Homo sapiens: one gene and its partners. The protein of the gene in region 1 purifies or fractionates together with the protein of each later gene. This does not show direct contact. Each region holds a gene or a part of one and is shown on either strand. Other genes may lie near its edges.

Region 1 (2,472 bases):
TACCATTCAATTTCAGATAATTCCTACCAACAACCTTATGGGGAAAACGAGTACCCTCTAGTGAGATTCCTCCGCCAACCAATTTACATGGAAGTGAGAGTCCTAAACAGGGATGACCCCAACATCAAGCTGGTCTTAGATGACTGCTGGGCGACGTCCACCATGGATCCAGACTCTTTCCCCCAGTGGAACGTTGTCGTGGATGGGTAGGTACTCCCTGTACTATCAGGTTACCCAGCTAATCCATCAAAACTTGCCAGTAATGGGAATAAACCCTCTTGGGCTTTAGAGCAGCATTCAGTCATGTGAGATCCAGATTTAGTCCTTGTTTTCTAATTGGGACTCTTCTGCCTTCTGTTTTTTTTTTTTTTGTTTTGAGATGGGGTCTCATTCTGTCACCCAGGTTGGGGTGCTGCGGCATGATCTTAGCTCACTGTAGCCCCTGCCTCCTGGGTTCAAGCAATTCTCCTACCTCAGCCTCCTGGGTAGCTGAGATTACAGGGGCACACCACCAAGCCCAGCTAATTTTTGCTATCTTAGTAGAGACAGGGTTTTGCCATGTTGGCCAGGCTGGTCTCGAACTCCTGACTTCAGGTGATCCACCTACCTTGGCCTCCCAAAGTACTGGGATTACAGGTGTGAACCACCACACTTGGCCACATGCTGCCTTCCAATCACCTCTTGAATCTTAAGGAATGAGTTCCAAAGCCCCAGAAAGTCTGACTCTACTATGGTGTTGATCATCTGGAAAGACTGGTCTCTAGCCTCTATCCATCTGAACACCTACCATATGCCAGGCACAGTGCTATGTATTCCACATCCACTAGTTGTACTAGTCTTCGTCTTTCATGAAGAAACCCCAGCTTGCTGCCTAAATAACCAGCCCAAAACAATACTTAAACAATGGAGCTTGTATTAGAATATCCATCTGACTCTAGAATCTGAGCACTGATGCTCTGAGGTTGCAGCCACACACTTGTACACATAGGTGTTCAACCTTACAGCTCTCCTGCCGTGTCCTGTCCTACAACTGGATCTCACCCATTCTTATGGAATAGTGTGTACTTGGCTAAAACTGCACCTTTGCTTTCTTGAAGCTGTGGTAGCTCAGTTACTAAGCCTTCTGTTTTGTTTTTGAGACGAGGTCTCACTCTTGTCCCCCAGGCTGGAGTGCAATGGCACAATCTCAGCTCACTGCAACCTCCGCCTCCCAGATTCAAGCGATTCACCTGCCTTAGCCTCCCAAGTAGCTGGGACTACAGGTGCCTGCCACCATGCCCAGCTAATTTTTATATCTTTAGTAGAAACGGGGTTTCACCATGTTGGCCAGGCTGGTCTTAGACTCCTGACCTCAGGTGATCTGCCCACCTCAGCCTCCCACAGTTCTGGGATTACAGGTGTGAGCTACTGCACCTGGCCAAGAAACCAGTGTCTTCTGAAATGATATAATTTGTACTTCTCATGTAGTTGGCAAACAGGTACTGCTAAAATAGTTAAAATATAACTAGTCTATACAACTTATGATTTCATAGGTATTATAGGTCAGGTAAGAAATGCTGAGTAAAACAAAGGTGCTGGTAGAAGGTAAATATGGCAATAGTTCTGAAGATATTACGTATGACTAAATCTGGGCAGACATTGAATTTGACTCCAAGATGCATATGACTGACATCCCTCCCTGGTGCATACCTCCTAGCTGTGCATATGACCTGGACAACTACCAGACCACCTTCCATCCAGTCGGCTCCTCTGTGACCCATCCTGATCACTATCAGAGGTTTGACATGAAGGCTTTTGCCTTTGTATCAGAAGCCCACGTGCTCTCTAGCCTGGTAAGTGATTCAGAAGTCACCAGGGACAGGTTAAATGTTAGTGCATCGATTCCATGTAACTCTCTTCTGTCTCCAGGTCTACTTCCACTGCAGTGCCTTAATCTGTAATCGACTCTCCCCTGACTCCCCACTGTGTTCTGTGACCTGCCCTGTGTCCTCTAGGCACAGGCGAGGTAAAAACTTCAAATTCCTGTTTCTGTGAGTCTAATTCAAAGCAAGTATCAACTTTTTAGAATAGAAGATCTTAAGGACTGGTATAACTCATACTTTATTTACTGCCCAGAGCTCTTGTTGGCCCAGTCAAAACTTGGTCCAGTCTACCTTACTCATGTGACAGGTCTAAGATGAACAGTTTCTTGTCTAGTTCTATAGACGATGAGTTCTTTAAGAATCTATCCTTTTTTTTTTTTTTTTTTTTTTTTTTGAGACAGTTTTGCTCTTGTTGCCCAGGCTGGAGTAAGATGGTGTGATCTTGGCTCATTCCACCTCCAGGGTTCAAGGGAAATGATTCTCCTGCCTGAGCCTCCCAAGTAGCTGGGATTATAGGAACCCCCCCAACATACCCAGCTAACTTTTATATCTTTAGTAGAGACAGGGTTTCACCATGTTGGCCAGGCCAGGCTGGTCTCAATCTCCTGAC
Region 2 (3,660 bases), on another chromosome or scaffold:
TAAGCTGTTAACTTGGTAGCCTTCCTGGGCCTCTGCACTGAATTCTAGGCCCTAGTTTGCTGGTTTTGGCTGGTTCCCAGTTCTTCCAAAAGCAGGTATTCCAGCTGCTTCTGGCAGTCCAGAGATCCAGCACCACCTCGGAGACTACTGGAAATGCAGAATCTCATGCCCCACTCCAGGTAACTGAATCAGAATCTCCACAGGAACAAGATCCTCAGATGATCTGCACACACTTTAAGGTTTGAAAAGCACTGGTCTAGACGATGAAGGGCCAATGGCAGGGCCACCCACTGTCTGAATGTTGGCCTTCCTGAGGCTGATCGCCAGAGTAATGGGACCTCCTGATTGAATGCCTGTCTTGGCCGCACTGTTCCACCCTGCAACCACAACCAGAGATGAGCTTTCTAAAGCCCAGTCTGATCATGCTTAAAACTCTAGCACAAGTCTAAGAGCAGCAGGAACAGCTTCCACAGGCCTTGCCCACCTCATCACCCACCAGCCATCACCTTTCACTCTACGCTCCAGCCATGGGAAACGGCCTGTGATCCCTGGAAAGCAGCAGATACCTAGGATTACACTTTTATTAATCAAATGTCCCCAGAATATTAATCTCTTTCAAACAGTATCAGAATGAGTGCATAAAAAAATTACAACAGGTAAATGACTCCGGGGAAAGGGTCTAGGGTAGAAGGATAACTTTTTTCTTTTCTTTCTCTTTTTTTCCATCTGCCTGTATTAATTTTGCAATTAAATAAAGCACTCCCCCTAGGAGAAAGCTAGGCAGGATCAGCCACTGGAGATACATCTAGCTATTTTACTGCTACTATGTTAAAAAGGATATAAGACGTCAGAGTGCTCATATGCCTTTGAAAGTAGTCAATAATAATTGTGGAAGCCTACTGAATAATTCATGTAATTTCAACAGAAAATTATCATACAAAAGTCACATCCCTCACAGTTCCTTAAACATATGATTAAAAACATCTTTTTTCTCTTAACATGTAAACATGTTAGTTTTTCAAAATCTTAAATTCTGAACTGTGACATTCTAAGTTTAAACGTCAAAATCTATAGTACTAAATGAAGTCTTTAAATAGTTTGGCTTACTGATATGATGATGCCCGGCTACTGGAGCCTACTCTTTAATTCAACTAAAACTTACAGAGAACCCGTTGAAGGCAATGTGCTGGGTGTGTGCTGTACAGGTGCTTAATTTATGCTTTTTCCAAGCCAATATTTCACTAACCTAGCACCACATTCTACTCCAATATGTATTTTTTATCCACATAAATCTGCGTGCTGCAACTGTACTTTTCAAAATCATAATTTAAGTTTTAACTTATAAAATTACATGACCACAAACCACATGAACAAAGTAATACCTTATTTTTAACATCAATTACTTAAATAAAGGCTGCCCCAAATTTCCCTACCTGTATGAAATGATACTTGCCTTGCAAACCTTAAACTTTTTGTCTGTTCCCAATTAGGCTTTACTTGAACCCTAAAAACAAATTAATTATAAATGTTTCTCCAGACACACTGCAGAGCAGGAGTGACCTTAGCCTAACAGGTTATCGCTACATGATTTGAAGTGGGTAAAGAAAATTAAAGACAGGAGTTCTGAGAAAACTTATATTTAGATGCTTACATTAAAATTCATTTTACATCTGTTCTTTTCCACTCTTACATGGGACACTTAGATGTAAGACCTTCAATTCATTTGCTAAAATGACTCAGATAGAACTTCCATCTTTAAAATATAGTTGCTACTGAGTTTTTAAAAGGGCAAAGAGAAAAATACTTGATAAGCTAAATCTTAAAAAGAAAGGGCACAGTAAGGAAAAAAAAAAGTAACGTCTATGATAGTCATAGCCAAAGTTAATTAGACCTCAACTAACACTGGATATTGATTTCCAGTCCGTAAGCTGAATGCAATTCTCTCTTTCACGCCCTACAAAACCTAAGAGTCAAACCGAAGAGTGAATAGCTAGGTTTTAAGGTGTAGACACTTGATTTCATTTACTCTTGGAATATTTTATGTCTTTAAAACTAAATTGGACAATAAATTCTCACATTTCATATTTTGGATGTTTTTTAAAGAAATAAAATATTAACATACTTGTTTGGCAGATTATGGTTTTTACAAGTAGATTTAAAACCAAGGCAAATACAAAAACATATGAAAAGATGCTTGATATCACTAATCATTAGGGAAATGCAAATCAATACCAGAATTAGATACCACATCAAACCCATTAAGATGGCTACTATTAAAAAAAATAAACAGCAAGTGTTGGCAAGGATGTGGAGAAATTGGAACCCTTGTGCACAGTTTGTAGGCACATAAAGTGGTATAGCTAGTGTGGAAAACAGTATGGCAGTAAAAAATCAAAAACAGAATTACCATGTGATCCAGCAATTCCACTTCTGTGTATATATGCAAAAAATAAAATAAAAGCAGAGTCTCAAAAGAGATATTTGTACACTATGTTCACAGCAGCATTACTCACAATAGCTAAAACAGTGGAAGCAACCCAAGCGTCCATGGATGAATGAATGGGTAAACAAAATGTGGTCTATATGTACTACAGAATATTATCAACCTTAAAAGGAAGAAAATCCTGATACATGCCACAACTTGGATGAACCTTTAAGACATTATGCTAAGTAAAATACATCAATCACAAAATGACAAATACTGTATGATTCCACTTACATGAGGCACTTAGGAGAGTTAAAATCACAGAGACAGAAAGTAGAATGGTGGCTGTCAGGGGCTGGAAAGAGGTCGGAATGGGGAATCATCGTTTAATGGGTATAGAGTTTCAGTTTTATAAGATGCAAAGAATTATGGACACGGATGGTGGTGATAGTTACACAACATTATGAATGTGTTTAATTCCACTGAACTGTGTTCTTAAAAATGGTTAAGATGGTAAAATTTATGTTCTATGTATTTTACCACAATAAAATGAAATTGATAGGGAAAAGATGAGGCAAGTACATTTGTAAGGAAAACAGAAAGCTTGGACCAATTCTTATATATAAAGCAAATAATATTTCATGTATAATCTTAATCTCAGATGGTAGGTAAAGACCACTGTAAAACTAACCAGTACCCTTGAGTGTCACAGGCACATTTCATTTCCAAAGCTTATGAGATTGTAAGTAACCAGAACCACTTGACAAGATACCTGAATAAATGAAGCGAAGGATGTCTGATAAACAAGAACAGAAGAGGGCGTCTTTAACAATGACTCGTAATGGTGGGTTGCCTGAAGATTCATGGCTAGCACCTGGAAATGCAGTATCTCTGTTTATAGCAAAAAGATCCTGGGTAGTTCGGATGATACTGGAATCCTGAATGTCAGTGGGACTCTTCACATTGAAAAGCAGCATGAAAACATGGCTTACAGCGCAGAGAACGATCTTGTGGGCCTCTACAACTTTCTTTAAATTGGGGTTGTAAAATACCACGTCCACACACTGGCAGCAGAACAGCAAGTTATTTAAGTCAGAGTTATAATGTGACGCTTCAGCCTTTAAGACAGGCATTTTTTCTGTTTTGAAAAAGAAAATAAAAATAATAAACTCCTTTCAGGTTTACAGACCCAACAATTTCATGTTTACTTTAAATATAATTGTATAATATTTTAA
Region 3 (3,660 bases), on another chromosome or scaffold:
AATCTTTTTTCCAACAATTGTGGGTGTCAGTAAAATGCTGGATTCAGCACAGTGGGACATACATAGATGGCCAAGAAAGGTTCCTGTAATAGAGGAGCTTCCCATCTAGAATAGGCTACTGATGTTTATATAGGGGACTATAATACCAAGCGGAACACAATACATTCTCTGATATTTCACAAAAAAAGTGCAGTTCTAATGAGAGGTCAGAGTCGGGAGTGATTAACTTTAACCAAGGGTATTAGGGAAGACTTTAAATAAATGTCATATGAGTTGAGTTGTGAAAGATGGAATCGAATTACAGTAATGAGGAAAGATTGTTTGAGCCCAATGACTGCTGTTATAAAAGACTTGAAAGTAAGAATGTACCTGTTGTGGTGGAAGAATGGTGACTAGCCCACTGTGGCTGGGTGAAATAATTTGAGATTTGGAAAAGTAGTTCAGTCATAGAGGATATCAAATAACATGGTATTATGGCTTTGATTCTATAGGTAATGAGGAGATAATATAATTTTAAAGTAATGGTAACCTTTGTCGTAATTATTATTGTTATTTGAATGTCTATTATGTGCCAATCTTTGTTGAAGACTTATATATACATTTGTTTCAGTCCTTCAATAACCCTATAATGAAATGTGTTCTCCTCTTATACACATCAGAAACTTAAGGCCGAGAGAGAGAAGTACCTTGTTCAAAGCCACCTAGCTAATAAGGGGCAAGCTGAGCTTCAGCCCTTGCATTTATCAGACTCTAAAGTTATGTGTGTGCCTGACACCCCACTGATGGCTACATGGCTGCATTGTGAAGGATGGATTGAAGGGCCCATCTTTTCAAGAAATTGGAATTAGGAAGAGATTTATGATGTGGTAGAGAGAATGGAAAAGTGCCAACAGTGGATATTGGAGGCTTGACAAAAGAATCTGTTAGCTATGTAAAAGTGGGAATATTTCTAGGTTTCTAGTTTTTTGGCTGGATATTAGTGATGCCTTTAAGAAGGCCTTGGTAAGAGAAATTCTGTAGCCAAATTGGTTTTTAGATTTCAGTTGAGAAATAAGAGAAAATTGGGAACCTCTTTCCCACTTCAGTGTACTTAGAGTCATCTAAGCCGTCTTTTTAAAACTGTGAAACCTCAGTAGCCTCAACACACACACACACGTATGTTAATTCAGGAATCTATATTTTTATTTTCATTCTGGGAGATGCTGGCATAGTTTACAAGCCACACTTCAGAAGCAGTTCCTGAAAAGTAATGATAATACAGTGATGGTGACATTTGGCCTATATTTGCCTCTTCAGCATTATTCCTTATGATTTCCATCTTTCTTAAAAGTATTTTAATAGTCTTAGATTGAAATGAGTGGTTGACGTGCAGTCCTAATTTGTTATTTTAAACGTAGTGCACTTCACAAACCCTAATGTGAGATTCAGTACCTCATATTTCTTATGAAGTAAAATGTTATGCCTACAAGAAACCTCACCCTTGAGTTTCCCCAGTAACCTGTACAAAGCTCTTTTCCTTAAAGCTTCATCTGTATCTTCAAAATGTAACTAGTTCATTTTCTTTTTGGCGTGCAGATTGCTCTAAACTGTATGGTGAAGTTGGCCAAGGGCAGGCCCCATCTTAGCCAGTCAGTAGTTGAGACCTTGTTGACTCAATTGCACAGTGCTCAAGACGCTGCCCGGATTTTGATGTGCCATTGCCTGGCAGCCATTGCCATGCAACTGCCGGTGCTGGGTGATGGGATGCTTGGTGACCTCATGGAGCTGTACAAGGTGATTGGACGATCAGCCACAGACAAGCAACAAGAACTTCTGGTAAAAAGCCCATTTTGAATCTCCTTTGAATGACTAGGATCTGGTCTAGTGGGAATTACTTTTAAGTCAACATTACTATTTGACTTTACTTAAAAAACAGAACAAACAATAGGTTAAATTCATTACCTAAGACCAAAGAGTGTGCTGATGTCAAAATAGAATTGGCTTTATGAGCTTTTTACTTTTTTCACTTTTGATTTAGAAAGCCGTGTTTTGTTCACCTCTAAAACTGCTTTCTTCCGAAACCCTGTCAAATCAGCCTAGTATAGCCAAAGCCTTCAATCTCATGTTTTTTTTTATTGCAAAGGACAGAATGAAAATGAAATTTTTATCTTTCTTATACAGAGTAAATAATGAACTAAACCCTGTTTTGTACTTTAGAAAATAGAAGTTAAAAATCTAATGATAATAATGACCATAAATTAGCCCAAATTTATGTTTTCCATTCCAGGACCTCTTTAGCTGTTTAGGATCCAGTTTAGGCTTCTGTAGACCCTTGAGGTTGGGAAAGGTACATGCTTAGAAAGAAACAGAAGCTGTGGAAGCTATAAAATGTTTAGTTGAAAAGTTCTGCAGGACTGAGAGTAGGCTACATTCTAAATAATTGTAAATTAAATGAAAGTTGTAAGGTTGCCATTCCATATTGTTCTGTTCATCTTAATTTAGAATGTGGGAAAAAATATAATGAAATAATTTATTCAAGCCTGTTTTATGTTTAATCCTCCAGAGGGAATTGTGTAAAAGATTGACCCCATCCCATCATTTGCTGCCAGAAAAGGTTACCTTGATGACCAAATGTATGGATCTTTATATGAATCAGCTTTGAAATATTAAGAGGCAGTTAGCTAAGTTTATTTTTTATTGAAGTGGCATTTTGAACTAACGGTCCTGATATCTTTTTTGTGAGTACTACCTTAAGATTGTCTTAAATTATGAAACATAATATTCAAAAAATCTGAGGAATAATACAGTGAAAACTCTTGCATTCATTATCTAGCTTAAGAAAAAGGTATTAACAGTTTAGTTGAAGCCCCCTGTTTACCTTGCTGATAGCATCTCCTCCCTTCTCTCAGGTAACCACTATCCTGAATTTGGTATTTATCATTCTCATGCCTGTTATTCTTTTACTACCAAAGTGTATATCCCTAAGTAATATGCAGTATTTTGCATATTTTTAATTTTATGTAAACTTTATCATACTACTTGTAATCTTTTGCATTTTGCATATTTTTGCGTATTTTGCTTGTCATCTATGTTGGTAAGTCTGTCGCTAGTTTATCCATTTTATTTACGTATCTCATTGTTTGATTATGTTATATAATTTATTCATATTATGGGTATTGCTTCTACTTCTTTGCTGTTATAAAGAGTGCCCTGAGTGAATGGAATAAATTAATGACTTCAAAATAAAAAATTAAATAAATGTCATTGGAAAACAAATTTTGTTCTTTTGCAGTGGGCTCTAATTAGTTTTCCTCCCTTTGGGGTAGGTTATCAATGACACTGAATAAAATTAAATGATTTTCTTGGTTTTCTTCTTGCCCAATGTTAGGTGAGTTTGGCTACTGTGATTTTTGTTGCAAGTCAGAAGGCATTGTCTGTGGAAAGTAAGGCAGTAATTAAGCAGCAGCTTGAAAGTGTCTCCAATGGATGGACTGTATACCGTATTGCCAGACAGGCTTCCAGAATGGTATGTGTTACCCTTCTGAGTGAACTGGGTTGCTGGAAATGTCAGATCATGTATCTTCAATTGTATGATTATTAGTTGTAGTCAAAACTAAAAATAAAGATGGAAGTACCTTTTAGTCATGGGTTCTGAAGATGAGGAAGGAAAGGACCTGATTT

What was found.
Region 2: the proteins of ZP2 (region 1) and RHOBTB3 purify together in Homo sapiens (affinity purification with mass spectrometry; one large-scale study listed by BioGRID and IntAct). This does not show direct contact.
Region 3: the proteins of ZP2 (region 1) and INTS7 purify together in Homo sapiens (affinity purification with mass spectrometry; one large-scale study listed by BioGRID and IntAct). This does not show direct contact.

Annotation. Positions count from the first base shown.
Region 1 is NC_000016.10:21,199,103-21,201,574, reverse strand, and holds part of ZP2 (zona pellucida sperm-binding protein 2 isoform 1 preproprotein), read left to right. Parts: intron 1-16; coding exon 17-206; intron 207-1,696; coding exon 1,697-1,832; intron 1,833-1,908; coding exon 1,909-2,005; intron 2,006-2,472. UniProt on the Homo sapiens protein: Component of the zona pellucida, an extracellular matrix surrounding oocytes which mediates sperm binding, induction of the acrosome reaction and prevents post-fertilization polyspermy.
Region 2 is NC_000005.10:95,755,299-95,758,958, reverse strand, and holds part of RHOBTB3 (rho-related BTB domain-containing protein 3), read right to left. Parts: intron 3,564-3,660; coding exon 3,198-3,563; intron 1-3,197. UniProt on the Homo sapiens protein: Rab9-regulated ATPase required for endosome to Golgi transport. Involved in transport vesicle docking at the Golgi complex, possibly by participating in release M6PRBP1/TIP47 from vesicles to permit their efficient docking and fusion at the Golgi.
Region 3 is NC_000001.11:211,976,427-211,980,086, reverse strand, and holds part of INTS7 (integrator complex subunit 7), read left to right. Parts: intron 1-1,575; coding exon 1,576-1,815; intron 1,816-2,542; coding exon of another isoform or gene 2,543-2,641; exon of another isoform or gene 2,642-3,255; intron 3,256-3,367; coding exon 3,368-3,505; intron 3,506-3,660. UniProt on the Homo sapiens protein: Component of the integrator complex, a multiprotein complex that terminates RNA polymerase II (Pol II) transcription in the promoter-proximal region of genes.